Linked DNA regions of Homo sapiens. The protein of the gene in region 5 purifies or fractionates together with the protein of the main gene of each other region. This does not show direct contact. Each region holds a gene or a part of one and is shown on either strand. Other genes may lie near its edges. The genes, in order: RRP1, LAD1, BOP1, COL18A1, AHI1, ALDH5A1 and OFD1.

Region 1 (4,409 bases), on a different chromosome or scaffold from region 5:
TTGAAATAGGTGTCACTGTTGCCTAGGCTGGAGTGCAGTGGCGTGATCTTGGCTCAACTACAGCCTTGACCTCCCGGGCTCAAGTGATCCTCCTGCCTCAGCCGCCCAACTGGCTGGGACTGCAGATGTGCACCACCAGGCCCACGTAATTTTTGTATCTTTTTTTGGTAGAGACGAGTTCTGTCCTGTTGCCCAGGCTTGTCTCAAACTCTTGGGCTCAAACAATCTGCCTGCCTAGGCCTCCCAAGTTGTAAGCAATGTTAATTGCTCCTAATTCTAAAAATATGTAAATTGGCTGGGCGCGGTGGCTCACATCTGTAATCCCAGCACTTTGGGAGGCCGAGGCGGGCAGATCACAAGGTCAAGAGATCGAGACCATCCTGGCCACCATGGTGAAACCGTGTCTCTACTAAAAGTACAAAAATTAGATAAATGCATAGAAAAGAATTAGCAGGCTGGTTATGGTGGGTTAAGGGGATCTCTTGAGCCCAGGAGTTTGAGGCTGCAGTGATCTGTGACTGAGCCACTGCACTCTAGCCTAGGTGATAGAGTGAGATTCTGGTTTTTTGTTTTTTTTTTTTAAAGAATCAGCAGGAATTGAACTGTGGCTGCTGAGTTTCTCTAGGTTTGAGTTGCATGGGTGATTTTGCATTTAGGGCAGCGGTGCCTCTGGTTTGGAGGGATTTTCATTCTTCTATTCCCTGGCAGGACTCTGATGCCAGGAGTCTCATTCATTCTGGGCCTTAGCATTGTGGATTACCCCATAGGGGTCTCATGGCTTAAGCTGAATTAAATGTTAAAGGGATGATTTTACTTGTGTTAACTTTTTTTGGCATATTATTACAAGAGTACTTTTCTCCCTGTAACTGAGAATTCAGCACAGGAATCATGTGGAAGACCTCGGTGCCTTCCCCCAATGCCTGCTGCGGTCCCAGTGCTGACAGTGGGGTCCGCTCTTCCCGCCCTCTTGGATCTCCTGCAGGCATAACCAGGCTGTCATTAATATCCACGCCATTGCCACTGGCCTGGGAAGTCGGTCCCTTGCATCTGTGTGTCTTCCTCTTGGTCTCAGCACCTGTTCTTGCCTCTGTCTCGTTTTTCCTGAGCCTTAGAGAGCATCACTTTTCCTTTCCATCACGAGTGATTCTCCAGCCTTGCTACGGAGCTTCCTAAGGATCACACAGTTTACAGATCTGAGTTAGGCAGCTGCGTTATTAAGCACCCCAGGAGGTCCAGATGCATGTAGGTGCTACACATTATTCTCTGGGGCTGTCTAGTCTTCAGATCCAGGGCCTGTGATGCCATCAAACCCGCCTGCCAGGGAGAGCTCTGGTGGACGTCACAGTTGGAATGCGTCGTGCGGCAGGGCCCAGGAAGCCAGCAGGTGGCTCATGGTCCTCGGCCCCTTTCTGGGCCTCCACCTTCCTTTCTCTGCCTGTGCTGTCCTGACGTGTCTTCCCCAGCGGTACCCAGTGGAGGCAGTGGAGAGGAACACCAGGCAGGGCGTCTCGTCTCAGCCAAGCCTTTCTCTCTGCTAGCAATCTTGAGGACAGAGGGAAGGCCTGTCTGAATGTTTACACGTGCTGCATTTTGTAGCTGACATGCACACTCAGGCCATACGTTCTGGTGGTGGTGCTGGTCACATAACTCCCTAACTGCAAGACTGCCTTGCGCTGGAGGAGACCTAGGATCGTTGATATCATCTGCGTGGACTTTAAGGCTGGCATGTTTGCAGACAGTGGCGCCTGCCCGCACTTAGGTTCCCATCAGAGCGTGTAACCATGGGAGAGTGGGGGGCACGGCTGTCTTGGGGCTCATCGAGGCTGCCTGTCATGTTTGCTTTTTCTTTCCTCAGACAGATCGAGGAGCTGCTAGAGCTGCTGATGACTGAGATCCTGCACCCCAGCAGCCAGGCCCCCAACGGTGTGAAGAGCCACTTCATCGAGATCTTCCTGGAGGAGCTGACCAAAGTGGGCGCCGAGGAGGTGAGGCTGGGCTCCGACGGGGCGGTGGAGCTGGGCGTTTGTGGAGGAGGAACTGAGCTCCCGCTGGCTTTCCCCGTAGCTTACGGCAGACCAGAACCTGAAGTTCATCGACCCCTTCTGCAGAATTGCTGCCCGGACCAAGGAGTAAGTGGTGGGTGGCCTGATCGGGCCCGACTCCTTCACTGAGTTCTTCCATGGGGCTGCTGTTGTGGGGGTGCTGCTCCCTCGAGGGATGAATCTGTCTCAGAGTGGCCGCTGGCCGTGTGGGTGGGGAGAGGTTGCAGGGGAGTCGGCGGCTTCCGCTTGGGAATCCAGCATAACGGGCCTGCTCACCGGCCTCTGCTCTGCCCCTCAGTTCCTTGGTTTTGAACAACATCACTCGAGGCATCTTTGAGACGATTGTGGAGCAGGCCCCGCTTGCCATTGAAGACCTCCTGAATGAACTGGACACACAGGATGAGGAGGTGGCGTCGGACAGTGATGAGTCCTCTGAGGGTGGTGAGCGTGGAGACGCGCTGTCCCAGAAGAGGTCTGAGAAGCCGCCCGCAGGTGGGGGTCACACTGCGCCTGGCTTCTCCTCGGGGCCTGTCCTGGGCTGAGCCAGTGCGATCTCCTGCTGGGTTGCTCCTGCCACCTCCTACCTGGTCCCCTTGTCTCTGCCCCTCTCCACAGTCCATCCTCAGCATAGAAGCCAGAGTGACTTCTGTGGGCACCAAGCACACGTCGTTTCCCCTCATCCCCCAGCCTCTGATGTGCTCCACGCCCTCTCCGGACCCCTGGGCTCCTCGGTCTAACGCATGCCTCTGGCTCAGTTGGCCCCCTAGACTCGTTCCTGCCTTGGTGCCGAGTCTCTCCGTCCCTCCCACCGTCTCTCCCCCCATCACTCTCTGGGGCTGGACTCTTTCAGCCTCCTGGCCTCTCCCAGCCCCCAACGCAGTCCTCCCCATAGCGTCACTCTGTGGCACGGGATGTGAATCACTTGCTCCTCGTGTTCCTCGTTCCTGGCCCGTCTCCCCAGAGGACAGCAAGCTCTGTCCATATTGACCATGACTGGGTTCAGGCCTGAGACCTCAGGGCACCTGACTGCTCTGTGTGCAGTGTGTGTGAGGGGCAGGTGTACTCACCTGCCCCTCACTGCCTGCCAGAGGCCTCTGTGGGCAGCCGTGGGGTCCAGCCTGGCCCATTTTTTGTTTTGATGCTGCACTCATTGTCCGAGCCTGCTGGGTGGTCTGAGCTCTAAGTGTGGCATCCTGGTGCTGTGGAGGGCATGTCTTTGACCACGCTCAGGACCCCAGTATGCCCCAAATCAGTGCTGTGGCCACTGTTCCCCTTGGCTTCCTAATCAGAAGACCCCCTCCCCACCGCCCCCAGCACTTGGCCCGGCCACCCTGTATGCTTCTCCCTGGTCTCTGCCTTGCCCTTCTCTCTCAGTAGCTGAGGTGCCTGGCAGGTCCGCTAGTGCCTGCTGCTGGCCCCCTGCTGCCAGCTACAGAGCAGACCCTTGTCACATGCTGCCCCACAGCTGCCTGTTGCCCAAAAACCTTTCTTCTGCAGACAGTGCCATCAAAGCCCCAAATGCCCAGCCTAGCTCGAGCACCCAGCCGAAACATCAGCTCCCACAGCTTCTGGACCAGGCCACCCTGAGGCTCCTCACTTCCAGAACTTTTGACATGGCCTTTGTTGCCCAAGATGCCAGCTTGTAGTCAGCCACTCAGGGCTGTGTAGGCACCTGTGCCCTGGGACATCTTTTTTTCCTTTGCAGGCCTGAGGTGGCACCTCTCATCCTGTCCATACGAGATTAGAGGTCACATGGCACCTAGTATCTGCCTTGAGCTGTGGGCTTTCCCGCCTGTGCCCATGTTCTGACCAGGGTGCAGGGTGGGCTGTCCGTTCCCGGGTGTTTCCCGCCTGTGCCCGTGCTCCGACCAGGGTGCACGGAGCGGGCTCTCCATTCCTGGATGTTTGGGGCCAGCACACGTTGGGCACAGGTAGGGTTCACGGGGTCCCTTTTGTTCCAGGCTCCATCTGCAGGGCTGAACCTGAGGCTGGTGAGGAGCAGGCAGGTGACGACAGGGACAGTGGCGGCCCCGTTCTCCAGGTGGGTTCCCTGGGCTCATGGCTGTGCCCTCAGCCTTTGCCCCTCTGTGCTACCGCTTGCTCTGGAAGAGGAGGGGGGCGTTAGGAGGGAGGATGGCAGCTGTTGGCATGGAGAGTTACCCGGACAGGGGTTAGCTTTGAAGGAGGGATGGGTGCCCCAACCCTGCCCGCCTGTAGACGAGTGGGATCATTGAGAGTGGGGCTGGGGCCTGGGAAAGTGGGGCTGGGGCCTGGGAGGGTGGGCTCAGGCAGAACTGCATTATCCAGGGCTGGCCTCACCTCACGCTGTCCTCTTGCCTCACACATGGGCAGCCCCCCAGATTTCCT
Region 2 (4,867 bases), on a different chromosome or scaffold from region 5:
ATGTCAGAATCAGAGCTCAAGTGTGCAAGTTACCAGTCCAGTTCTCATGTCCTGGACCTCGTCCCACCCTTGCCAAGAAGGAAGGCTCCCTGGAGGAGGGGGTACTTCGGGAGGGGGAATCTCAACAGGCTGGCTGTGTCTGTGTTTCCAGGCTTCTGCCCGGCAGCTAGCTTGCCCTTTGCCGTGAGATCTCAGAGCTGGAAGGCCTGACATGAGCACCAAAGAGAGGCTGAGGCTGGGCAGCGAGGCCCAGGAGCATGAGGGCAGTTCTGGCTCTGGCTCAGGCTCCCTTTTGATATTCTCATCCTGGCGCTGGGGCTGTGCCTCCTTCCTCTCAGGGCAGGAACAGCAACTGTGCGCTGACCCTGCAGTTCAGATCCATCAGGGAAGATAAGATTCCCCATGCTCAACGCCTGACCCTCTCTTAGCCCAAGCCCACCTGAGGCTGGTTCCTGGATAGAAAGCACCTGGCCCCGCACCAGCCCAGATGGGCACCTAAAGGGAGCCAGGTGGTGTCAGGGGTGCCTGAGCTGTCTCACGGTGCTCCAAAATTCGAGTCCTAGATATCTGTGTTTAATCTTTCCTTGGGGAAGAAAAACTGAGCTTCCTCTGCCCTTATTATACACCCTGCCACTCTAGCCCAAAGTCCAGTATCAGGGAGCAAGGACAGTGCCTTTGACATATTTGTGCTTTCACAAATGTTTGCTGAATTGAGTCTAAGATTCTCCCTTTGGGTGGGGCTGGGTCTACCAGGGGCATGTTTTGTGTGCAGCTCAGAAAGCAATGCCTCATTCATCTCAGCGAGGCCTACTGGGACGGTGGGCCCGGGTGGGTTCCGAAGCCAGGGAGTGGGGAGGGCGCTCCCTGCGAAGGGGCCCCGAAGGCGCGGGCGCTCTAGACCCGAGATCACAGTACCTGCGCTAACTTTTCCGCTCGGCTTCTTGCTCTTGAGCGTCTCCGGGCTAAGTCGGGTTCCCGGCAGGGGTCCCCGCCCCCAGCCCAGCTCCTCGGCACCCCGGGCCGCGGCACAGCGCGGGGAGGCGTCCCAGCGCCAAGCTGGTCGGACTGGTTCTGAGCAGGAAGTCTCCCGCCCTCGCCCCGGGCAGCCGACCAGCCCCACGCCGGCCCCGGGCGTCCGTCGTTCGGTCCCGCGATCCGTCCGACGGTCCACCCAGTGCTTGCGGCCTCGCGGCCGGGCCGGCCTGGGCTGCAATCAATGCGGCTTTGTCTGGGACGCCCACATCCCAGAGGCCATTCCCGGGTCGGCAAATCGGAGCGCGGCCGGGGCGCGCGGGGGTGAGATAAGCGGCCATGTGATCCCACCTGGGCTGGAAGGGGAGGGGCGCCAGGTGAGGCGGCGGCCGGCGGGGCGCGGGCGGCCACGCGGGGCTCCTGCAGCATGGCTGTCAGCAGGAAGGACTGGTCCGCGCTGTCCAGGTGAGCGCCGGAGGGAGCCGGGAGGGGCGGGGGGTCGGCGGGGAGCCTTTGGGTCTCCTCTCCTCGGGGCACCGGCCTCCTCCCCGCCTGGGACCCTGACACTGAGGCTGGATCCTGGTCTTGCTGCGACTCGCGGGAGACAGGATTGGGGCCAAACTCGGGACCCCTGAGGTTACAGGGTGGGTCTTCTCCCCTCGGGGCCTGAGGCCCCACACAGGGTGCTTAGGGGAAGGCTGGTCCTCAGTCTGGACGCCCGCTGGGATATGGCCCCCCCTGTGGAAGGTGGAAGCAGGAAGGAACGTTTTGGGGGATTGTGGAGGTGTTCAGGAGTAACCTCCAAGCCTCATTCCTGAGAGAAGCCTCTCTCACTGCCCCCGTGTGTCTCTGGCGGAGAGGACCCCTGGGAGGTGTCCCACAGCCCCTCTTGGGAGGGGGAGCAGGGAGAGCCGTCTTGGAGGGGTCAGTGAAGAGGACTGGAGGGAAGCAGACCCGTCTCCCACTAAGGACGCTCAGAATCTCAGCATGGCATTTTGGGGTGGCATCTGGGCTGGGAACCTTAAGATAGTTGCCATCCCCATCTGTGCTGCTGCAATCTTTACTTGTACACTGGTCTCCTAAAGGGTCGGGGATGAGGCATCCTACCCCTGCCTGCTGGACATCCCATCAGGGTCCGAGAGGCCTGGGGAAGGCGGGTGTTCAGAAGGCAGCACCCCTCATGGAGATTGGTGACCTCTAGCGACTTCTCTTGGAGCGACCCTGCACCTCTGCCAAGAAGGCCCCCTGTGAGCATTTTCACCTCATTCCTCCACTGGGCGCCCCCGTCCCCCATCTTGTCCCTAAGGAAACTGAGGCTCCTGCGGTAGCCCAGAGCTGGAGCCTGCTCTTTTGATCCCTTTCTAGCCAGGTAGATATTAGCCTCTTAGCTCCTCCCAGGTGGGCATTTGGGTCTTGGCCTTTCCTGAGCCAGGGCTATCTCTGCCAGGTGCAGACCCTCCAGCCATTTGGGTCCTGTAGGCTTTCCCCAGCAAGGCATCTTTCACAGGTTTTTCCAGTGCTCTAGTATGTCCTCTACCCCGCTCCTGCCCTCCCTTAATAAGGGCTCCAGAACTACCTCATTGTCTCAGGCTTAGCCTCTCCATAGCAGCTCATCGCCTGGGACTGGGGGGCCACCTCCCCAGACCCTCAAGACCTCACAGTGCTCTGAAGCACTGTGGGCAGCCCATGGGCTCTAGAGAGGGGAAAAGGTAAGCCCCACGAATGGAGGGAACTCAGTGCTCTGGAAAAGAAACCCAGGCTGCTATAGAGGAAGGTCTATGCTGAGGGTGCGGCTGAGGAGTCAAGGTCTTGGACTTTGCATGTGGGTCAGTGTGCCTGGGGGTTGATGTGGGAGTGTCTTTGCTTCTAGATGTGGGCCTACCTGTGCCTATGAATGTATGCTTATGTGTGTGTGTGTGTGTGGCATACTTGTGGACAAGTGTGTTTATGGCCTATGAAGAGATGACACATCTGTGTGGGGAGCTGGTTCTTATGTTGCTGAGTCTTGAGTTTGTCAGTCTGCATATGTTCAGTTGAACTGTTTATTGAAGACCTCAGTACTGTGCATTGGGTTAAAAATACAAACCAGACACTCCTTCTTCAGAAGTTCATAGTCTGGTGGGATATATGTGATTTTGTGTCTGAAAGCATGCCTGGATATGCATGGGGGGGTGTGTGTGTGTGGGGAGGCAGCTGGGGCACTGGAACTTTGAAAATGGGAGCAAGGTCTGGCCTAAGCTTGTCCACTGCTCAGATGGACATGGACTCATGTGGCTACAGCCAAGTTCCCACAAGATGTCCAGGGTAAGTGCCAGGAAGCTCTGGGGAACAGTCCTGCCACAGGGGCCCCTGGCCTGCCCTCCCTGCCGGGTCCCAGCCCTCATAGAGCCCTGTGGGCAGACGCAGCTGCTGCCAACAGTCACCCTGATGAGGCACCTGGAACAGAGGACCGCTCCCGCTCCGCTCCCTGGGTGAACAAGCCTCAGCGGGCAGGCAGGAAAGGGCTGTGAGTCACTGTCAACAGAGCCTCCTGGGCTGGGGAGGACCGTGCTAGGGTGTGACAGCACGGTCCCAGGTGGGGAGGTGGATGGAGAGGTGGGTGGGTAGCTGGGGGCCAGCCTGCAGCCCATCCTTGGCATGGAGCAGAGATTCAAGTCTTCCAACCCTGGGATTGGGGGGGCAGTGGTGAGCTGGCTGGCTGGGTGCCCTGGTCAGAGGCCTTGTCCTTTTCTCCCCGGACTGGCCTGGTGACCAGTGAGGCTGGGCCAGGCCTGTCTGCAGGGGGTGAGGGGTGGATCTGAGAGTGCCTGGGACTGAACAGCCAGTGGTTAATCATTTCCCTGCCTGGGCCTTGAGCCGCCCTCCTACTTCCAATCGCTGCCCTGGGTTCTCCAGACACCTCTCCCTAGACCTTTGGGGCTGGAAGAGACCTGAGTTACCCCCCACAGTGACCATGCAGAAGGGGAACTTAAGGCCTGCCCTGCTCAGGTGCAGGAGACTGGCCAAGGTCATGGGCATGATCCCCCAACCCTCCTCTGTCCTCCCTTCCCTAACCCCAGTCCCCAAGATTTGCAAATTATGCTCCTTGAGCCCCAGGGTTCCACAAAATGCATCTGGGGCAGCCTTCTCACCCTCTCCCAGCTTTAAGCAGGGCAGCTGAGCCTTAATCTGTTGTATAATGGGCTTCTGTCTATGATTCAATTTGGGAAAATGGCTTGTACTGCTAAATATGACTTTTAACAACCACTTCACTTAAATCCCTGCCATCAGTTGCTGCAGAATAGATGGAAGTTAGACTTCAGGAAGAAAGTTCCCAGGGTAGAGGTCAAAACAAGCTCTCTAGTGAGTAACGGCAGAATGTCCTTTAGAATTATTTAAGAGAAAAAGAGGATCCCCATCCCCAAAGGATGGAGTTGAAGTCTGGAGTGGGGAGGAGGATAGCAGCATTACATGGAGACACCGAGAGGGACATGTGTCCCCAGATGAAGGCCAGGAGGTGGGGGAAAGGGTTGTCTAGAGGGAAGGAGTGGTAGGCAGCTGCCTGGGGCTGTGGCCTCAGCTAGTAGGAGCAGCTGAGCCTCCGCAGCTGTTCGGGCCTGTAGGTTTCACCCTGGGCCTGGCTCTGGGGCTTGAAGGTCAATGTTGCATGGGCCACGGGGTTTCCCCAAACCTCTGCCCTCCCAGGCTCCCAGGCTTTGCCCTGGGCCCCAGCCTGTCCTGGGGTAGGGAATACCACACCTTCAGATGCCCTCTTGGGCCTCTGTTCCCTCCCTTGAAGGTTCAGCTGTTGAGCTCCCTCTGGGTTAGGGCCAGCCCTCCCTGGCCATACCTTTTCTGGCACTTGGTATGATGGTTAAGCGTAGGTGCTTTTGAGAGGCTGACCTAGGTTTAAATC
Region 3 (4,409 bases), on a different chromosome or scaffold from region 5:
TTTCATACCAGGTCTTCGGCCTTCTCTCACTTTAATACCAGGTCTTCGGCCTTCTCTCAGTTTAATACCAGGTCTTAGGCCTTCTCTCAGTTTAATACCAGGTCTTCGGCCTTCCCTCACTTTCATACCAGGTCTTTGGCCTTCTCTCAGTTTAATACCAGGTCTTCGGCCTTCCCTCAGTTTAATACCAGGTCTTCGGCCTTCCCTCAGTTTAATACCAGGTCTTCGGCCTTCCCTCACTTTCATACCAGGTCTTTGGCCTTCTCTCAGTTTAATACCAGGTCTTCGGCCTTCCCTCAGTTTAATACCAGGTCTTCGGCCTTCCCTCAGTTTAATACCAGGTCTTCGGCCTTCTCTCACTTTCATACCAGGTCTTTGGCCTTCTCTCAGTTTAATACCAGGTCTTCGGCCTTCTCTCACTTTCATACCAGGTCTTTGGCCTTCCCTCAGTTTAATACCAGGTCTTCGGCCTTCCCTCAGTTTAATACCAGGTCTTCGGCCTTCCCTCACTTTCATACCAGGTCTTTGGCCTTCTCTCACTTTAATACCAGGTCTTAGGCCTTCTCTTACTTTAATACTAGGTCTTAGGCCTTCTCTTACTAGTGCTTTTTTCTTTCAAGACAGAGTCCCACTCACTCTGTCACCCAGGATGGAGGCAGTGGCATGATCTCAGCTTACTCTAACTTCCGCCTCCCAGGCTCAAGCAATTCACATGAGGTTTCACCATGTTGGCCGGGCTGGTCTCGAACTCCTCAAGTGATCCGCCCACCTTGGCCTCCCAAAGTGCTGGGATTACAGGTTTGGCTCACCGCATCCAGTCTTTTCTCACATTCTTGACTGTGACAAGCAGATTAACTGATAAAAACAGAAACTTCTGCACAAAATAATAAAAAGAAAAACTCACATAAATGAAAAGACAAAACCAAGCAAAGCTGGGAAAAAAATGAATCTAAATGAGCACAGAAAGGAAAAAACAGCTCTGAGCGCACGGACCCCACAGATCCACTAGACACCAGCGATAAAGAGAAGGCCCTGCAACCAGTCCTCGCTCCGGTGAGCCCGCGGCCCGCGCTGCCGTGTGCTGCTGGAGAGGGGACAGGAAGCGAGGCACAGGCCGGCAGGAGGCAGCTTCCTCCCTGGCTGGTCAGTGGAGGGCTGGGAGCACCCGTGTCAGGGGTGCTGCAGGGCAGGGAGCACACAGCCCAGGGCGCCCCTCCAGTGGGATGGCTCGCAGACACAGTCAACAGCTGGAAGGGCAGGGGCTGCAGAAAGTCCCAGGGAGTAGGAACCAGGCCAGGAGACAGAACTCGTGGGTCATCAGGTGGCACAGAACGCAATTAAGAGGCAGGACTGCCAGGCCCAAGGCAGGGAGGCTGGAGATGGGGTGGGCCCTGGGGTGAGGCTGGCCCACCAAGCTCGTGCCAGAGCAGGTGGACCCAGAAAGAGGGGTCACTGTAGCAGGGACGCAAAGGGTGGGGAAGGGATGCCTGCCCTCAAACCACACAAACACAAAAATAAATCAAACCCACTGGCCCCAAGGAGGCTACTAGCAACAGCTGTGGGCCCTGCCGTGGCCCACAGATACCCCAGGGAAGGAAGGGGGAGGTACAGCACCCACCCCATCTTCTTGGGCCCTGTCCCTGTCCTCATCCCTATCCTCTGACCACCCCCCAGACACAGAGTACCCTTCTTCACCTTCACTCCTGAGCTCCTCATGCCAACAGTCAGGGGAGGAGCTGCAAAGGGCACAGCCAGACCCTGCTCCTTGAGTGCACCTCACAAAACACCAGGACTCCTGACCCCAGAAACACAGACAGCAAATGCTCGTTGTTGAAAGGCACTATGGTGGCCAGGTGCGGTGGCTCACGCCTGTAATCCCAGCACTTTGGGAGGCCAAGGCAGGTGGATTACCTGAGGTCAGGAGTTCAAGACCAGCCTGGCCAACATGGTGACACTCCCTCTCTACTAAAAATACAAAAAAAAAAAAAATTACCCGAGCGTGGTGGCTGGCATCTGTAATCCCAGCTACTCAGGAGGTTGAGGCACGAGAATCGCTTGAACCCAGGAGGCAGAAGTTGCAGTGAGCCGAGATTGTGCCACTGCACTCCAGCCTGGGCGATAAGAGCAAAAAAACTCCATCTCAAAAAAAAAAAAAAAAAAAAAAAAGAAAGGCTCCATGGTTTGGGGCAGTTTGTTGTGGTGCCAGATAACAAAACAAACAAACAGAGAGAAAACAGCAAAGGGCTCCTGGCCCAGGGAGCTCAGACCAAAATGACAAGAACCAGCTAGCTGTCCTGCCCTTGGGCAACAGCCATGAGGGTTTCCAGCCAGCTAAGTGCATGGATGATGCCGCCACAGGGAAGAGACAGAAGGGCTTCCGGGACTGGGACCACGGGCACGCACCGCCATGCCTGGCTCATTTTTTAAATTTTCTGTAAAAATGGGGTCTCATTATATGGCACAGGCTGGTCTTGAACTCCTGGGCTCAAGAGATCCACCTGCCTTGGCCTCCCAAAGTGCTGGGATTACAGGTGTGAGCCACTGGGCCCAGCCTGTGACTCATTCTTTTTATTTTTATTTTTTCAGTTAAGCCCAGCTGTGCGAGCCTCATTCTTAATGAAAGAAAAACATCACTAAACAAGAGGAAAAGATGAAGCAGCAACACCATGAGGGAGGCTGGTGGTGGGAAAGCAGCTGAGGGGCGGCTGCAGTAGTGCATGGCATCACCGCCTAGCGGAGGGACGCTCCAAGCACCTTCACAATTAAATGCATTGATGGCCAGGTGCGGCGGCTCACGCCTGTCATCCCAGCACTTCAGGAGGCCAAGACAGGTGGATTACCTGAGGTCAGGAGTTCGAGACCAGCTCAGCCAACATGGTGAAACCCGTCTCTCCTAAAAATACAGACATTAGCCGGGCGTGATGACGGGCGCCTGTAATCCCGGCTACTCAGGAGGCTGAGGCGGGAGAATCACTTGAACCCAGGAGGTGGAGGTTGCAGTGAGCCGAGATTGCACCACCGTACTCCAGCCTGGGCGACAGAGCGAGACTCTGTCTCAAAAAACAAAACAAAACAAAACAAAACAAAACTAGCCAGGCATGGTGGCGGGGACCCTGTAGTCCCAGCTACCAGGGAGGCTGAGGTAGGAGGATCCCTTGAGCCCAGGAAGTTGAGATTTTGGTGAGCCAACATCGCACCACTGCCCTCCAGCCTGAGTGACAGAGTGAGACCCTGTCTCAAACAAAAAAAAGCATTTATCCTTTGACCTAGAAATTCTCTTGGAATTTTCCCCAAGAATGGTGTGCACATGTGAGAAACAGCATGTTACTGTCAGGTCAACTGTAAGAGCAAAAGCCTGCAACTGCCCACCCACTGGAGCTGTTGAGGCCGAGCTGCCAGGCACTCTACGGGCACCAAGCACTGTACAAACCAGAGCCATGGCCTCCCTGACAGAACCATCCTGAGACAGCGCACGGCTGCCCCTTCTCTTAAGAAACCACCATTCAAAAACTCTGTGCGAGTTTGGATATGTCTAGAACATCCTGGAAAGAGACTTCAGCACTGGAAACAGTAGTTGCCTGGATGCAGCAACAGGAGCCAGGAGGGAAGGGTAGGAGACTCGTTCCCTGGCACACCCCTCAGGAGCACCTGAGCATCCAAAGGTGCCCTAGAACACCACGTGCAGCTGCTCACTGAATGCCACGTAATTCTACACAGTCCTTAGAAAGGAGGCAGGGTCGTGTGCATGTCAATGCTAAAGGCCTGAGGGCAGAAAGCCAGAGGGAAGCCTGTGGCCCGGCCCTGCAGCCAGAAGCACGCCCACCCTGGGTCCACCCAGGCAGGTCCGGAGCCCTTGGCAGGTCGCCAGGTCTCCACAGGGGCCGCCAGCAGCTGACCCCCAGCAGTCACCGGGCTCCCCGCTACAAGGGCCTCCCACTGTGGGGCTCTCCGCAGGACGCCCCGGGCCGGTCTGGGTTGGTTTGGGGCACACACTTGGAATCAGATTTATGGAGGAGGCTCTCTGAAGGTGACCCATCAGCCACATCGCTGCCAGGATGGCAGAGATGAACAAAAGCCGCAGCTCCCTCCCATGCCAGTCACACAGCCCCTTCTTCACAGCACCATCGGGGCCGGGTATACCCACCAAGGGCTAGGCGGCCTGGGGAGTGAGGCCCTCGCCCTGCCTGACTTCGTGTGTCCCTGAGGTGTCCGTGACATGACACATGCATGCTGCCTGATGCCCAGCCCCATCCCGCCACTGTTCCAGTCTGATGTGATGCTGTGGCTGGGATGTCCTTCAGATGCACGAGGCAGAGGCCACAGGGGCCACGTCTTGCCAACCACTGTGGAGGAAACAGCGACAGGAGGGAGTGGGGGGACAGGCAGAAGCACGTGGCAGAAGAGAAATT
Region 4 (4,409 bases), on a different chromosome or scaffold from region 5:
GGAGGAATCACTCAATTCAGGTGGACGCTGCAGCTGGGCGGGACATCTGGCCTCTCCCTGTGGCAGGGAGGGGCATGGGAGAGACAGGGGTAGTGTCCCAGGAACTCCGTGGGCCTGTGGCGAAGTCCCAGCCCTGCAGCTGCCAGTGCAGGGTGTTATCCAGGGGCAGGACATCGTCTGCAGTGGCTCTGCCTTCCCCGATGCCAGGTGACCCCATGGAGCCAGTGTCTGTGACCTCTTCCATGCTGGGGCTAAAGAGGCCAGCAGGATTGGGGGCTGGCATTAGTGGAGAACCTCAGAGCCCAGGGCTGTGGGCTGATGGGTGGCGAGGCCCCCGCCAGCTGCTTGGGGATAGCCCAGCCACTGTTCTTGGTCCACCCGGCCTTTGATTCCTTTTTCCTGTGTGCATTTTTGAGCACCTTCTGTGTGCGAGAGGCCGTGCCTGCCCGAGAAGAGAAGGAAACACCACAATGAGCCTCGGACACCCACAGTCTGAAGGGCCCGGAGTAAGCCTCAGACGCCCACAGTCTGGAGGGCCCGGCGCTGTGAACGAGCAGTCACAGGGAACAGCGTGCCCTTATCGCTGACACAGGCTCTGGAGGGCCCGGCGCTGTGAGTGAGCAGTCATAGGGAACAGTGCACCCTTATCGCTGACACAGGCGAGGGCTTCGTCTTCTCACAGCTCTTATCTTGGGTGTCACCCCAGCCAGAGTCAGGGCTGATGGCGGGGGGTGGGGGGGGGGCAGGCTGTGGTCAGGGACCTGCAGGAGAGGGGAGGGCCTCGCTTCTGATGGGCGACGTTCATTTACACACAGCTCTGCGGCCCAAACGGCCAGGCTGGATCCTGTCTTTTAAAAACCTTGCTAATTTGGTTGATGGAAAATATCATCTCAGAGTTCTGTTTTGTGAGTCCCCATTGCCATGCGGGCAAACATTTTCATCCACTAAGGGGCCGTCGTGTTTCTCTGGGAACGTGGCGTTCACCGTGTGGGTGAACTTTTTCACGCACTAAGGGGCCGTCGTGCTTCTCTGGGAATGCCGGGTTTGTGGCTCGTGCCCACTGCCCTGCAGGTGCATTCTCTTTCCCCGTAGCTTTTTGTCTGTTGATGCTTTCAGCTCTGGATGTCCTATTTTGCGTACTTTTATTGTTTATGGTCAGCCTTTAACTGGGGGTATGATATTTCTTTAACTGGGGGTATATTTCTTTTTTTTTTTTTTTTCGAGATGGAGTCTGGCTCTGTTGCCCAGGCTGGAGTGCAGTGGCGTGATCTTGGCGCCCTGCAACCTCCATCTTCCGGGCTCAAGCGATTCTCCTGCCTCAGCCTCCTGAGTAGCTGGGACTACAGGTGTGGGCCACCACGCCTGGCTAATTTTTTTTTTTTTTTTAAAGTAGAGACGGGGTTTTGCCATGTTGGCCAGGCTGGTCTCAAACTCCTGACCTCAGGTGGTCCACCTGCCTCGGCCTCCCAAAGTGCTGGGATTCCAGGCGTGTGCCACTGTGCCCAGCCATGGGGTATATTTCTTAATGTGTGGAGTTGTTTTTCCTCATTTTTCTGGTCCCTTTAGAGATGGCACCCTGGAGTGGCCAGCAGAGCTCAGGGGCCTGCGGCCCAGGCACACAGACAATGGAGCTGGCCCTGCCACTTTGCTCATCTGTGGTGCAGGTCTGCTGAGGGGCCGTGAGGGTCCTGCAAGTGAAGGTGCTTGAGGCCTCAGTGCCTGTGGGGAGGCCACGTGGCACCTGTCAGCTGTTAGCGTCTTGACTCTGCCTTTGTGGATATGGAATTAGAGATGCTTCTCACAGTAGTGGCTAAACTGTCAGGAAGCCTGGCCGTCATCTATGGTCCTCTTTGCCCTCATGGGTGGGATGCCGCCTAGTGTGATGGCTGAGAGCTCAGGCTGTGACCCTGAGTGTGTGTGGCCACGGGCAGGCTGCTCACCCTCTCCGTGTCTTGGTCTCTAATCTGTGCCTGGGGATGGTGGAGCGTCATGGGGCCATACAGGAAGGATGGGACATCACACATCGGCTTCCTGGGGTGTGTCCTGCTGACAGCCCTCTGAGGCCAGCCGGTCCTGAGGCTCTAGGGGGGACGCCACAGTGGAGAGAGGGCTCCATCCCCACCCTTAGGGCAGAGCCCCGTAGGAGGGACTGGTTTGCAACGTGAGTAAAATGGGTCCCCGTGAGCAGACACAGCTTTTGTGCTGCTTCTTACTGAGCCCCGCGCTGTGCCTGCTGAACTGAAAGATGTGTATTAGAGAGGGCAGCCATTCCCACCTCCTCCAGCCGCGCTACGTGTCCGCAGGCCAGGGCGCCTGCACCATGACAGGCTTCAACGCCCCTGTCGCGGGGACCCAGGGAACACCTGTCTCCTCCACTTGCTGGATTTGTGACTGGGCGGCAAACATTTTCTAAAGTCTCCCGCTACGACCCCTCGGCTGTCAGGAGACTTCTGAGAAAGCCGGGCCTCTTTTGCCCCAGCGAGGAGCTTTCTTGTGAAGAGGCAGTTCCCGGAGGGAGGCGTCTGTGCTTTGTAAAGTTTAGCCTCATGTGCTGCCTCTGAGGAGGAGTTCAGAGAACATCCGCTTCCTTTCTGTTATCATCTCAGCCTTCCAGCCAGAAAGAAGGAAGCGTCCATGGATCCCGTCCACGCTAACCTTGGGGTCCCTCTGCCAGCCCTGCACATCCTTGTCCCTGGGCACTGAGGGAAGCAAAGGCCCCGCCAGCCATGCCCAGCACTTGTGCCTGGGCCTTTGCAGAGGCTAGAGGCAGGGTAGAGGATGGAGAGGGTTTAAAAGGCAGGTTCCCAGGAAATTCCCTAGGTGTGGGATTGGAGGGGTGCTGAGGGAGGTGGCGGACCCTCAGGGGCAGGAGCCTTATGGAGTGAGCTGGTCCATGGAGCTGGGAGGCGTCTTCTAGTATAAATTCTCATTTCAGCTAAACAGCTTGCCCTCTCCAAGCCCGTGTGCACCTGAACCATCTCTGCTCTCTGAGCCTTGGTCCCTTGGAGGAGCAGGAGGAGGTGGAGGAGGAGGATCGGGAGGAGGAGGGGGAGGCCCTTTCTGTATTGGATGCACCGCCTGGCCCCAGGCCCTCCTGCCCAGCCTTGTGGCTCTGGCCGTCAATCAGCTCCCTTCTCCTGGCTTTGCTGCTGCCCTGCCTCTTGCTAGGAGGCCATGGTGTGCCTGTGCCTGGCAGGCAGTGTTGCTGCTGACCTCTCATCTGTTTTGGGTCCCCAAATCTCAGCCCTGTCTCCCTTTCGGGGGCACATCTTGATGCGGGGTCTCTGATCCCCTCGGGGCAGCAGGACATCCCTGTTTTCCAGCTGAAATGAGACTTCACCCCCAAAGGAATGGGCTCCAGTCCGACCTACTCAGGTTGTTAGTCACACGTTTCTATTGTGAAAATGACTGAGAATGTTGTGGGAGGTTTGGAAACCAGGAAGACCACCTGTCCCAATTCAGCCTTTCCTGTCATCACAGGGGACGTCTGGCATTTTAACAGACCTGGGCGGCCTCCTGCAGACAAGGCTCGGACCCTGCGGCCGACTCTGCCCCAGGCCTGGCCCCTGCTGATGGCCATGCTCCGGGCATGTGGCCTGAGGGCCTCACGGACAGCCAGCCTCCCAGACCAGAAAACAGCCCTGCCCGCCAGTGAGAGGGCAGACAGATGGACACTAATGTCCCCGAACCTAAGAAACAAAACCCAAAACCCTCATTTATGCTTCCACTTCCGATCACACGCATAGAAGGCCGAATACTGACCCCGAGCTGACCACCCCGGCCTGTGGGACCCGTGAGTATGGCCTGTGTGTGGGATGAGGCTCAGGATCAGGTGCAGATGACCCTGGATTATCAGGTGGGCCCCACGTCATTACGAGGGTCCTTATAGAGAAGGGGCAGGACAGGGAGAGGAGGGGATGATGGAGATGGAGCCGCTGGGGAGGGCATGAGAAGACCAGGAAGTGGGTTCCCCCTGGAGCCTCCAGAGGACCCCTGCGGGCACCGTGACTTCTGACTTCCAGTCTCCTGAGCTCTGAGGGATGCCTGTGTTGCTTTAAGACACTGACTGACTTGTCCCAGCAGCCAGAGGTGACAGTGCGGCGTGGTGTTGGTTCACCGAAGGGGTGGCATTAGTGACCATGGGAATAAGGGCCTCTCACCTGCGAAGGGCCACTCTGTGGGGCAGGAAGTCTTGGATGTGTGCCGGCTTCAGCAGGACCCTCAAGGCTGCTGGGGGTCAGAATACGAGCACTTCCTGCACACCCAGGGCCACCCCAGGCTGCAGGCTTTGTGGAGACTTAAAGATGAGTCCTCGGCCTTCGGAATCTCCTGACTCAATGGAACCTCTGGTCTTCAGGTCCCCAGGATGACCTCCCAACAGGCCCAGGGCAGCAGCCAGGAGCTGGACA
Region 5 (4,409 bases):
CTGATATTTTAAAAGTCTATTTTTGAACCCACTTTTTAAAATAGGAAGCTTAAACTATTTACATTTATTGTCATGACTCAGTTTGCTCTTACTTAAATTTCTTATTTCATTACATTCTTTTAAAAAAACTCACTTAATTTTTTTAACTCTGACAACTTAGAAAGTGTAATAATCTATTTTATATATATACTTGTTTTATTTATTTCAAACTCTAGGATGAAATAATAACTTTTAACTATACGCTAGGGACAAGAGTAATGGTTACGTGACTTTTTCTTCCTAAGCTAGGATGCTTTGCTCAATCTTTGAAAACAATTTGGTTCTGTTCTCTCACATTATCATATACATATATCTAATGTAAAATCTTCAGGAATTATTCTGGACATATATAATAATTAAGAAAGTTCTACATATTTAACTGATTTCAAAGTTCATCCAATGGTATTTTTGGATCATAAATTTCCCATCAAAAAAATTTTTAACTGATACATAATAGTTGTACATATTTTGGGGGTACATGTGATATTCTGACACCATATACAGTGTATAATAATCAAATCAGAGCATCTGAGATACCCATTACTCCAAGCATTTATCTTTTATGTTGGGAACATAAATCTTCTCTTCTGGCTATTTTGAAATATACAATAAATTATTAACTGTAATTTCCCTACTGTAATACTGACTACTAGAACTTATTCCTTCTAACTATATTTTTGTACTCCTTAACCAACTTCTCTTCATCCCTTCCTCTAAGATCTTAAGATGTTCTATTCTTAAATTCTTAACTTTGATTCATATCTAGAAATGGTACTACATCTTTAATAAATCTTAAATCTTTTTTTTTTTCCAGGGAGGGAACACTGATATTTCTCTAATAATGCACATATGTTTACAACTACCATCACAAATGACTGACAACTTAGGTGACCAGATTCCTCAGGCTACAATTTTTCTCTTAGTGCTCTAAATATTTCTCCATTGTCTTTTGGATTTAGTGTTTTTACAGAGAAGTCTCAAATGTACTATATGTTTTTGTGTTTAGGTGTCTGCAATATTTGACTCTTAAGATACAAACAAAAGAATTTTCTAGATATAGTTCTCATCTCATAAATTTTGCCTGGAATGCAGGATGACTCATCTCTTCAGAAATCTCAGCAAGGTTTCTTCATCATGCTCATTATTGTTTCTGCTCCACTAGTACTGTCCCGGGATACTTATTTGTGGGTCAAATATCTTTCTATGTCCTCATCATTTATTTCTTTCATTTTAGTTTTGGTCATTTCTTCCCACCTCGAATTTGTCTCCCACTTCACTGATTAGATTTTTCCGTAGTGTCAATTCCATCATTTTAGGCCTGAGATATAGTTTTAAGGAAGCAACTGAAGAACATGAACTTTAAAATTGCAGAGACTGTGGTCTTAAATCCCACTTATCCTATTTTAGACTAAATGACCTAAGGAAATCACCTAACATGTCTGTTTGTCTGTTTATAAAATTTCTCATGTGCAAAAAAAGAATCCCAATATCTATCTTGCATGATTAACATGAGATTTAGAAATAATATTTGTAAAACTCTTATTATTGTGCCTTATATATAACTGGAATATAAGATGAACCTGCCATTATTATGAATCCCTATTTTGACTTTTTTCCTCGCTTAATTTTATTTCAGACTGCTCCATTTCTCATCTCAGCCTGTTCTGTACATAGGACTCCCTGTTCTTCTTTCAAGAAGAAGTCCTATCTTTTCAAATTTCATTAAAATAGATAATATTGGGTTGTGGTTAAGGCAGTGGATTCTGCACTTCCACTCAGTGTTTGAATCCTGGTTCTACCATTTACTATGTAACTTTCAGCAAGTTACTTAACTTCTGATGTAGTTTTCTCCTGTACAGAAATAAAACCCTGTAATTTCGTCGTTTGTATTAAACGACTAAATATATATAAAGTGTTTAGAAGAGTGCCTAAAGATAGAAAGCATTAAGGCATCTAGCAAATGAAAGCAGCTATTCCTCTTTTACTTCCTCAAGTTAATCATGTCAAAAATATTTTGTTCTCCTCTAAGTCCTTTAGAAATATTCCTGTTCTTTTGAGCTGCGAAATATCTTCCCAAATATTTGTTCCTAGTGTACTTATTTCTGAAAGAAAAGAAGCCTATTCAGTCCTGGTGTTTGCAAAGAGAGGCTGGATAAATTATGCTTAGTCACCTCACACTTATGTGCCCCTCAACATTTAAACTGGACCTTAGGTAAATGGACATAGCCTCTGCCTATTCTGATTATCCATTTAATTTAAACCTTGGTCTAAATTGCATTTTGTTCATGGCTCACAACTCCCAGTTCTTTAATACTAAGAGACAATATGAGGTTCTTCTCTGAGCATAAAACATCTCTGCAGACAACTGTTTCCAGGGTTCTTTTTGCTTTTGCCCAACATAAACCACTCCATCTGAGGGGAGCGCATATATCAATAAGCAATGTTTCATCCTCCATGTCACTATTCCCTACCATATTGTGCACTAGTACCACCAGAAAAAGCACATGCTATTTCAGAGCAGCAATCACTATGGGAGTGCTAATCTGTCCATTCTGTCAGTAGTTCGAAATTTTTGTGCAGTCGTACACCAGTGTATACACTATGAACCCTCACATATGTGCAGCTGGATTTTGGTCAATTTTACTACTTGTTTTTGCCTCACTTCAGAATTTATATTGTTACATTGACATCTGCCAGACAGAATACTAAAATGAACAGGTCTTAAGAAAAAATGGGGTAAATCTTACTACAAGCAAAATGTAGGATTATAACTCATTATAAAACTCCTGCCAAAAAAAAAAAAAAAACTATGTACCATTTACACAAGAGCCTGTTTATTTTTTTCTGTGAGGACAGAAGAGATAATGGTCAAAGTAGTAAAAAGTGCAACTCAAGTAGGGAGATAGGTATAAAGAGGGCATAGAGCATTAACTGTGGATGCCAATACAGACTCTTTATGATTCCAAGGGGATCAGGTTGTAGTTAGTTGCTGATTTGCTTAGTCTTTGAGCACTGTATTTTTAATTCCTTCAAGTGTGCTGCCAAAGATTCTATCATTTGAAAGTGTGCCTCAAACATAAAAGGATAATTATTACCATACGGCCATTGATTTCTCCTGGTTCTGTTGGGTAGAATCACACAGAAATAGTTTAAATAAGCACAAGCTATTCAATATCTGAAGTTAAGATACTACTTCCTAAGTTCTTCACAATTCTGGGTTAAAAATATTTTCTTCAAAAATGTTATCATGGCTAGTTTTGAGTTTCCCCACTATCTCTGGTCATTTTCCCCACTGTGTGTGTGTTCTTCCTGTAGGACAGCACTCAAGAATGAAGTCAATATTCTCACAGTGATGTTGATTCTAATATAAACTTTATTTTTACCACATGTTATTGACCATGACATAGTGTTACTGTTTTTAATTTTCAAAATTCCTTAGAATTTTAACATAAAATGCAGCCATATCTGCATTTTATGCGCATATGTAAATCACTATTACCCAATGATCATTTACTTACTGAGATGTTTTCTTCAGACCTGACAAGTTTTTTCTTCAGTTTTTTCTTTTCACGCATTAGATCACTGTGGGTCTTAAGCAATTCTTCAAAGCGAACTTTGGTTTTTACTTTTGCTTCACTCTCAGCTACAAAAGATACAGCCATGTGATTTTGTAAATGACTCTATCATAACACACAACCTACACTACTAGGATGTTAAGAAATAAGTTCTTGTAAATATCGGCATGAGTTCTCTAGCTACATTAGAAAAACTCACCTATCTTTCCTTCTTAAAATATTTTTTATTTTGACTTTAGTGACACAACATTCACCTGTATCCCTCTGACCTTTTTGGCCACTCACTCTAAAAGTCTCCTTTGCTAAGTTAACTTTTTATTTCTGATAAACAGTAGCATCTACCACTGTTAGTTACGTGTTATGTGGCTTTAGACAAGTTACTCAAGATCTCTAAACTTCATTTTCCTTATCTGTAAAATCACAATTATCTTATGCCAAAGATCATTTTGCATGAAAAATGGCTAAGGTGTGCCTAGCCTGTAATCAGTATTCCACAAATATTAACAGGTTTTTCCTTTAAAACATGAAGAAGATAATGCTTAAGCCCCTGAAAATTTCCCAATACATTTAGGATAAAATAAGTCTTTTATATGCCCTACAGGGCTCCATACCTCCTGATCTATCTCCAGGGCTTCAAATCAAGACAAATATCCCCTTAGATGCCTATGTTCTAGCTATAATACCCTTCCTTTAGCTCCTCCGTCACAGCAAGCTCCTTCCCACATGAAGCTGTTTCTGAGGCAAGCTTCCTCTAATTCCTCACCTGGCTGGTGTTAACCTGTCTGTTTAAATGCT
Region 6 (3,279 bases), about 110 Mb from region 5:
TAGCATGCTGTGCAGGTTTGTAGCCCTAGGAGCAATAGGCTAGACCGTATAGCCTAGCTGTGTAGGAGGCTGTACCATCCAGGTTTGTGTAAGTACTCTACAGTGTTCGTACAAGGACGAAACTGCCTAATGACGCATTTCTCAGAATATATCTCTGTTGTCGAGCAATACGTGATTGTAAAATGTGAGACGACATTTGCAAAAATGTCCACTAACCACTGGGCAGCAGTGCTGTCTGTGTTCTAAATTATGGTGAGGGCTGGCTACAATGGTGCACTCCCATAATCCCAGCACTTTGGGAGGCTGAGGCGGGAGGGTGGCTTGAACCCAGGAGTTTGAGACCAGTCTGGGCAACACAGTGAGACCCTGACTGTTCAAAAAATGAAAGAAAAATTAACTGAGTGTGGTAGCAGGTGCCTGTGGTCCCAGCTACTCAGGAGGCAGAGGTGAGAGGCTTGTTTGAGCCCAGGAAGTCATAACAGTGGGGCGTGTAGGAGAGAGAGATAGGCCAATCTGTGACGGCTGGCCTATACACCTTTCTGTGACCGCCACCTCTGCAAACCAGGTAAATTCTCAGTTCAGCTTAGCAAACATTCTATAAGCGCACACCATGGACAGGCCCTTCTCTGGGTTTTAGGGCACATCATTTCACATGCTGGCTCCTTCCCCAAGGCACTCACTGATTACGGCTCTCTGGGGGAGGGAGTGCTATTTACACAAATGCAAACTGGTCTAATATCATCCAATAAAAACTCAAAAGATCACCAAGTAGGGGGAAAAAAGCACAACCAGACACCTTAATACAGGGAGAGGAAATTCTGTTAATTCCACGTTTATTAATCACACAGCTCTCTGCAGACTAGACACTAAAACACACAATTGTCAAAAACTAGAAAAATGAGTTATGTCCACGTTTTAAAAGCAAAACTTTATAAATTTCTTACCACACTCATTCCCAAGTTTTATCCCACAAAGTATAGCATGAAACAATGACAACATACATATTATTCAAGTAAAATGCTATTTAAAATAGCTGCACACAGGTAATTAAAACACTAGGATCCAGTTTTTAGAGGAAAAAGTCATGTGGCACAATTTCAAGTTCATAATTGAAGTTAACAGTAAAACAGATTTGCTCACATTTGCTTCTGATCTTTATTTCTGCTGTCTCTCTTTAGTAGAATAAAGAAATGGCACTTCACATAAAATCATATTTAAAAGCTACTAAAATGGATAAACAGATGCAGATCAGCTCTTTAATGAGAATCCCTGCATAGCTGGAGGAAGTTCAAGGATAATTGTTTTTTCAAGGCAAATAGACTCTTGTTACGTGGCTAATTTCATGTACATTATCATCGCTGGGAAGTTCCTGCTGAGAACTCACGGTAGCTATGCCAGAAAAGTACTTTCTTCACAGGAGGTGTTGAAATAATGCCGGATAAATGCAAGTAAGGTCAATATCTCCCTCTTGGTCTAGATCAGGAGCTGGCAAACTTTTTCTTTAAGGAGACAAGTAGTAAATCTTTTAGGCTTTGCAGGCTATACTGTCCCTGTCCCAACTATTCAACTCTGCCAAGAAAGCAGTCCCAGACAATACCATAAATGAATGGGTGTGGCTATGCTCTAATAACATTTTGTTTATGGACACTGAAATCTGAATTTCATAGAATTTTCAGGTGTCATGAAATATTGTTCTTCTTTTGATTTTCTGCCCAATCATTTGAAAACATATAAACCATTCTTAGCTCACAGGTTGTATAAAAACAGGTGGCAGGCCAGGTTTGATTCGTGGGCCATAGTTTGCCAACCCCTGATCTAATGGTCCTTTTCTAGTCCATGTTGTAAAATGTATATATTTTTAAAATCCCGTTACATATGGCTACTTTATTTAAAAAACAACAAAAACGTTCAGTTAAAAATAATTCTCTTTCTTCCCACAACCAAGGGCCATTTTACTAAACAATAAGCTATTTCCTTTAATTAGAAAATTGATCAAGGATATACAATGAGTCTCTGGCCTCAATTTATGAACCCATGAGCCAAATATGCAAGAAGACTCAAAATTTGCCACCCAGCCAAAGAATCTACTGGCTTACAATGTTAAAAATTTATTTGGAAGTATTCCTGCACACATCTCAGCATCGGTAATCCAGAGTTATAAAAAATAATGTTGGAGCATTTGTATTCTTTTTTTGAGGCGGAGTCTCGCTCTGTCATCCAGGCTGGAGTGCAGTGGCGTGATCTCTGCTCACTGCAAGCTCCGCCTCCTGGGTTCACGCCATTCTCCTGCCTCAGCCTCCAGAGTAGCTGGGACTACAGGCACCTGCCACCACATCCGACTAATTTTTTTTGTATTTTTAGTAGAGACGGGGTTTCACCGTGTTAGCCAGGATGGTCTCGATCTCCTGATGTCGTGATCTGCCTGCCTTGGCCTCCCAAGGTGTTGGGATTACAGGCGTGAGCCACTGTGCCCAGCCCAGCATTTGTATTCTTAATAGAAAAAGGATGGATACATCTAAATCACAAGTAATTAAAATGTTATATAAAACCACCTAAAAACTACACAAATAAAGAGAAGACATTAACTGTCAAAATGCTGAGTATGTGATTCTTGACAGGGCCGGGGCACTGTCACTAGGAGATGAATTTCAGCTCTTCCTTCTCCTTGGGACCTTGGGAATGTGGCTAGTACACTCCAGGCCAGATGCTAGGCAGCTCCCTGTGTGCCCAGGGTCTTGCCAGACCTTTAGTTACTCAACCATAGCTTCCCAGTGGCTCAATGAGGGATGTTAAATCCTAGGTGGGGTTCAGGAGTAATTGCATCCAGCACTACTTTCATTCACATTTTCCTTCCACAACCCAGAATAACCACAAGATGTAAGTGGAGTCTACACAGACAGAGATGGGGAAAGGAAGGTGCTTCGTCTCCACCTACTTGGCCGCCTAATTGGATTTGCATCTGTTTAAGATTACGGAGTCTTTCTTTCAAAGTGAGAGGCAACGCCGGTCATAGCGGCTTTTGTTTTTTGTGCGTTATTTGAATGATGAGCTGTAAAAACTCTCATTAGATAAAAGGTGCCTGAAATTCAAGGGCTCATGCCTCTTCTACAAAGTGGGTTGGCAATTACAGAAATTCTTTCCCTTTTGGGTTGACTGTGGTGAAAGTACTTTTGCTCTTTTGGAGGTGAGGGAGCAGCACCACACCAGGACAGAAAGAACAGGCTCAGGTGACAGCCACTTACTCAGGCTCAGGTCGGTGGGCAAGTGGGCACTGGCCTC
Region 7 (4,409 bases), on a different chromosome or scaffold from region 5:
AGGGCAAACCTGGCTGATCACTTGAGGTCAGGGGTTCAAGACCAGCCTGGCCAACATGGTGAAACCCCATCTCTACTAAAAATACAAAAATTAGCCAGGCGTGGTGGTGAGTGCCTGTAATCCCAGCTACTTGGGAGGCTGAGGCAGGAGAATCGCTTGAACCAGAGAGGCGAAGGTTGCGGTGAGCCAAGATAGCGCCACTGCACTCCAGCCTGGGTGACAGAGCTGGACTCCATCTCAAAAAAAAAAAAAAAATCTATGTAGTTACTATAGATACATTATCCTTAAAAGTAGTTTTTCCATGGCCGGGCGCAGTGGCTCACGCCTGTAATCCCAGCACTTTGGGAGGCTGAGGCGGGCGGATCACGAGGTCGGGAGAGCAAGACCATCCTGGCCAACATGGTGAAACCCCGTCTCTACTAAAATACAAAAAAAAGTTAGCCAGGCCTGGTGGCGTGCACCTGTAGTCCCAGCTATTTGGGAGGCTGAGGCAGGGGAATCGCTTGAACCCAGGAGGCAGAGGTTACAGTGAGCCAAGATCACGCCACTGCGCTCCAGCCTAGCGACAGAGCAAGACTCCGTCTCAAAAAAAAAAAAATAGTTTTTACACAGTCTCTTTAAATGCATCTGGTTCAGAAAGACATCTGGCCGACAGCCCTTACCAGCTTCACCTAGCATCCCAGTAAAATTTCTGGAAGCCAGAAAAACTATGAGTAGCAGATAGGTCAGGCATCCTAGTGCCAAAATTTGGATAGAACTCTTAGCTAACAAAATAGCTCCTGGTAAGATAAAATTTTTTTAAAAATTGGTGTCTTCTAATTAAGTAACAGAAAACATGTAGGAAGATATTGTGTACTTAACCGTTGTCTGTCCCCTGACTCAGACCTATGGTCTTATCCTACCATATCTATGCTCAGGGGGTGCTAAGCTGTTGAATGGCCTTGGTACTTTTCCTCCTAGATTCTAGTCACCCATTCTTCCCACTGCTAATTTTCCTTTCAGAGATAATGATATCTGTTATGCGTGTCTGTGTGAAGAGACCACCAAACAGGCTTTGTGTGAGGAACAAGGCTGTTTATTCACTTGGGTGCAAGTGGGTTGAGTCCGAAAAGAGAGTCAGTGAAGGGAGATAGGAGAGGGGCAGCTTTATAGGGCTTGAGTAGGCAGTGGAAAGTTACAGTTAAAGGTGGTTATTTATTGTTAGCAGGGGAGGGGGTCCCAAGGTGCATGGTGGAGAGATCTTGGGACTCATTGTCCAGAAGAAGAATGTCACAAGGTCGATTGATCAGTTGGGGCAGGGCAGAACAAGTCATAATGGTGGAATGTCGTAAGGTTGGTCAGTCAGTTAAGGCAGGAGCTGTTTCACTTCTGTGGTTTTTTAGCTGGCTCCTGCAGGCCATCTGGACGTATATATGCAGGTTACGGGGGTTACAATGGCTGAGCTTCGGCTCAGAGGCCTGACAATATCCAGAAAATGATGTGCACAAAATTTGGATGAGGGAAGAAAATTTGGACATCGGCCCTTTGCTTTTTGGAAGTAAAAATTCTTATCTGCAATTGGCAAAAGAATAAGACATATACATCAATGGGGACAGAATTAGGAAGTCCAGAAATACATCCACACAAATATAGTCAATTGATTTTTTTTTTAACAAAGGTGCAAAGGCAATTCAATAGAGGAAAGATAGTCTTTTCAACAAGTGGTGCTGTAACAGTTGGATATTCATATGCGCAAAAATGAACCTAGACACAGATCTTATTTATTATACCTTACACAAAAACTAACTCAAAATGAACCATAGACCTAAATGTAAAATGCAAAACTATAAAACTTCCAGATGAGAACAGTAGAAAGTCTGTGATCTTGGGTTTCGTGATGAGATGTAACACCAAGAGCAAGATACATGAAAGAAAAAAGTAGATCAGTTAGACTTTATTAAAATTAAAAACATCTCTGTGAAAGACACTGTTCTTTTTGTTTTGTTTTTGAGACGGAGTTTCACTCTGCCACCCAGGCTGGAGTGCAGTGGCGTGACCTCGGCTCACTGCAGCCTCTGCCTCCTGGGTTCAAGTGATTCTCCTGTCTCAGCCTCCTGAGTAGCTGGAACTACAGGCGCCTGCCACCACGCCTGGCTAATTTTTTTGTGTTTTCAATAGAGATGGGGTTCACCATGTTGATCAGGCTGGTCTCGATCCCCTGACCTCAGGTGATCGCCTGCCTCAGCCTCCCAGAGTGCTGGGATGACAAGCGTGAGCCACTGTACCCTGCCAAAAGACGCTGTTAAGAGAATGAAAGACCCAGTGTCGAAACCCATAGAGCTTTACGTCATCAAGAGTGAACCTTAATGTTTGCAAATTTAGGTCAGGTGATCCCAGGATGGTATGCAGACTGTGACAAAATCTAATCCCCTTCCTGAAGGGAGTGGGGGTGGGGGAAAAGGTGCTGAGCTAACTACTGTTTTTAGTTCCAAGAAACTAAACATTTCTTAAGTAATTTATGCTTGTGGTTTAAAACAGTTTCAAACTATTCAGAAGGATATAAAGTGAAAGCAAAGTAGCAGTTTCTGCCCATGTTCTCTAATCTCACGCTCCACTGATAACTAGAATTAACAGTTTCACTCCACTGATAACTAGAATTAACAGTTTCTTGTTTATCTTCTAGAATTGTTTGAGGTTAAAACTATGTATTTGTAATTAAAACACAATCAATTGGGATTATATCGTAGATACTGTATGCAATTTGCTTTTTTTAATCCACCAATGTATCTTTCTGTAGCAGTATAGACTAATTATTTTTAAATAATGTATTTAACCCCCTATTGATGGAGATCTGGTTGTTTTATTGTTTGCTTTTTGCCATTACAGGTAACCTATGTGCAGTGTGCACCCTTTGTGCCCTTGTGAAAGTATACCTGTGTAAATTCATAGAAGTGGAATGACTAGATTAAAGGGCACATGCATTTCGAATATATATAAGCACTGACAAATTTCTCTTCCAAGTGAATGAGTATAGCTATATATCCACTCCCTTGCCAACACTTAGCATTATACAAGTTTTAATCTTAGCAGTGTTATAGGGAAAATAATGGTTTCTCTGTTGTATTAATTTGCATTTATGATTTTGTTCATGTTTATTCAGCATCTAAAAATTGTGTTCATCTTTGACAATGTAGTTTTTTCTGCAAACTACCCATGTTTTTCCCCATTTTTCTGATTTTTTTTTTTTAAACTGATTTGTAAGAGTTCTTTGATGTTATGAAAATGTCATCACTTTAGTCTTGGTTATGCCTCCATATTATTGCAACTATTTTTCCCAGTGTGTTATTTTTTTATTTTATGCCATATGTAAGTTTTCAGTTTTTATGTAGTTAGATTGATAAATATTTCTCCTTATTCCTTCCAGGTTCTGTATCATGCTTGGGAAGGCCTTTTCTCAGATTTATTAAAAGATATGACTGGGCACAGTGGCTCATGCTTGTGATCCCAGCACTTTGGGAGGCCCAGGCAGGAGGATTGCTTGAGGCCATGAGTTTGAGACTAGCCTGGGCAACATAGCAAGACCCTGTTTATACAAAAAGTAAAATTAGCTGGGCGTGGTGGGTGGTGGTGTGCACCTCTAGTCCCAGCTACTTGGGAGACTGATGTAGGAGGATTGCTTGAGCCCAGGAGGTCGAGGCCGCAGTGAGCCATGATTACACCACTGCACTCCAGCCTGGGTGACAGAGCAAGACTTTTGTCTCTAAAAAAAAGGAAAGATATATAATGTAAAAAATGATAATGTCCTAAAACTAAGATTGTAAAAACAGTGACTGAGCAGTGGTTGAAAGTTCTGAAACAAAACTGTATGCATATGTTTTTTAGGTTTTCTTATGCATTTTTTAAAAGAATTGGCAGAATATCATCAAGCTAAAGAGAGTTGTAATATGGAAACTCAGACAAGTTCGACATTTAACAGAGATTCTCTGGGTAATTATAGCCTTCTTTCTTAATTTCAGTTCTGCTGTTTTCATTTTGAATGAAGGAAATTATCTGATTTACCATATTGTGTGATTGCTCCTTGAACTGGAGGGATGCAGCCGGCAGGCAACAAGGGAATTCATTTCTGGAATCATCTTGGGGGACCAGGAAGTGCTCTCCAGTGTCATTCCCTAGCCTCATGAATGCCAGGGCTACACTGGCCAAATCATGCAGGGATTCAAAGGCCCATATTCTTCCTTGTTTGTTGAGTTTGACTTCTCTTAACTGGGAGGTTCTTCCTCGTGTCTTGTCTAACTTTACAGCCACCCAGTTAGAAGATTATAAACTACTTGCTTTGCAAAGTACTAGAGAAGTCAGTGACTTATCACTTCATTTTATAGTTGAGGAAACCGAGGTCCTCAGAGGAAGAGCAACTTGGAAACACTCAGTCT

What was found.
Region 1: the proteins of AHI1 (region 5) and RRP1 purify together in Homo sapiens (affinity purification with mass spectrometry, with the first as the bait; one large-scale study listed by BioGRID). This does not show direct contact.
Region 2: the proteins of AHI1 (region 5) and LAD1 purify together in Homo sapiens (affinity purification with mass spectrometry; one large-scale study listed by BioGRID and IntAct). This does not show direct contact.
Region 3: the proteins of AHI1 (region 5) and BOP1 purify together in Homo sapiens (affinity purification with mass spectrometry, with the first as the bait; one large-scale study listed by BioGRID). This does not show direct contact.
Region 4: the proteins of AHI1 (region 5) and COL18A1 purify together in Homo sapiens (co-immunoprecipitation; one study listed by IntAct). This does not show direct contact.
Region 6: the proteins of AHI1 (region 5) and ALDH5A1 purify together in Homo sapiens (affinity purification with mass spectrometry; one large-scale study listed by BioGRID and IntAct). This does not show direct contact.
Region 7: the proteins of AHI1 (region 5) and OFD1 purify together in Homo sapiens (affinity purification with western blotting; one large-scale study listed by BioGRID and IntAct). This does not show direct contact.

The regions. Positions count from the first base shown.
Region 1 is NC_000021.9:43,795,567-43,799,975, forward strand, and holds part of RRP1 (ribosomal RNA processing protein 1 homolog A), read left to right. Parts: intron 1-1,855; coding exon 1,856-1,985; intron 1,986-2,064; coding exon 2,065-2,129; intron 2,130-2,340; coding exon 2,341-2,534; intron 2,535-4,003; coding exon 4,004-4,083; intron 4,084-4,409. UniProt on the Homo sapiens protein: Plays a critical role in the generation of 28S rRNA.
Region 2 is NC_000001.11:201,395,839-201,400,705, reverse strand, and holds the start of LAD1 (ladinin-1), read left to right. Parts: upstream 1-1,381; 5' UTR 1,382-1,399; coding exon 1,400-1,437; intron 1,438-4,867. UniProt on the Homo sapiens protein: Anchoring filament protein which is a component of the basement membrane zone.
Region 3 is NC_000008.11:144,281,060-144,285,468, forward strand, and holds part of BOP1 (ribosome biogenesis protein BOP1), read right to left. Parts: intron 1-4,409. UniProt on the Homo sapiens protein: Component of the PeBoW complex, which is required for maturation of 28S and 5.8S ribosomal RNAs and formation of the 60S ribosome.
Region 4 is NC_000021.9:45,411,034-45,415,442, forward strand, and holds part of COL18A1 (collagen alpha-1(XVIII) chain isoform 4 preproprotein), read left to right. Parts: intron 1-4,409. UniProt on the Homo sapiens protein: Probably plays a major role in determining the retinal structure as well as in the closure of the neural tube.
Region 5 is NC_000006.12:135,487,066-135,491,474, forward strand, and holds part of AHI1 (jouberin), read right to left. Parts: intron 3,683-4,409; coding exon 3,558-3,682; intron 1-3,557. UniProt on the Homo sapiens protein: Involved in vesicle trafficking and required for ciliogenesis, formation of primary non-motile cilium, and recruitment of RAB8A to the basal body of primary cilium.
Region 6 is NC_000006.12:24,534,730-24,538,008, reverse strand, and holds the end of ALDH5A1 (succinate-semialdehyde dehydrogenase, mitochondrial isoform 2 precursor), read right to left. Parts: 3' UTR 802-3,279; downstream 1-801. UniProt on the Homo sapiens protein: Catalyzes one step in the degradation of the inhibitory neurotransmitter gamma-aminobutyric acid (GABA).
Region 7 is NC_000023.11:13,740,554-13,744,962, forward strand, and holds part of OFD1 (centriole and centriolar satellite protein OFD1), read left to right. Parts: intron 1-3,861; coding exon 3,862-3,966; intron 3,967-4,409. UniProt on the Homo sapiens protein: Component of the centrioles controlling mother and daughter centrioles length. Recruits to the centriole IFT88 and centriole distal appendage-specific proteins including CEP164. Involved in the biogenesis of the cilium, a centriole-associated function.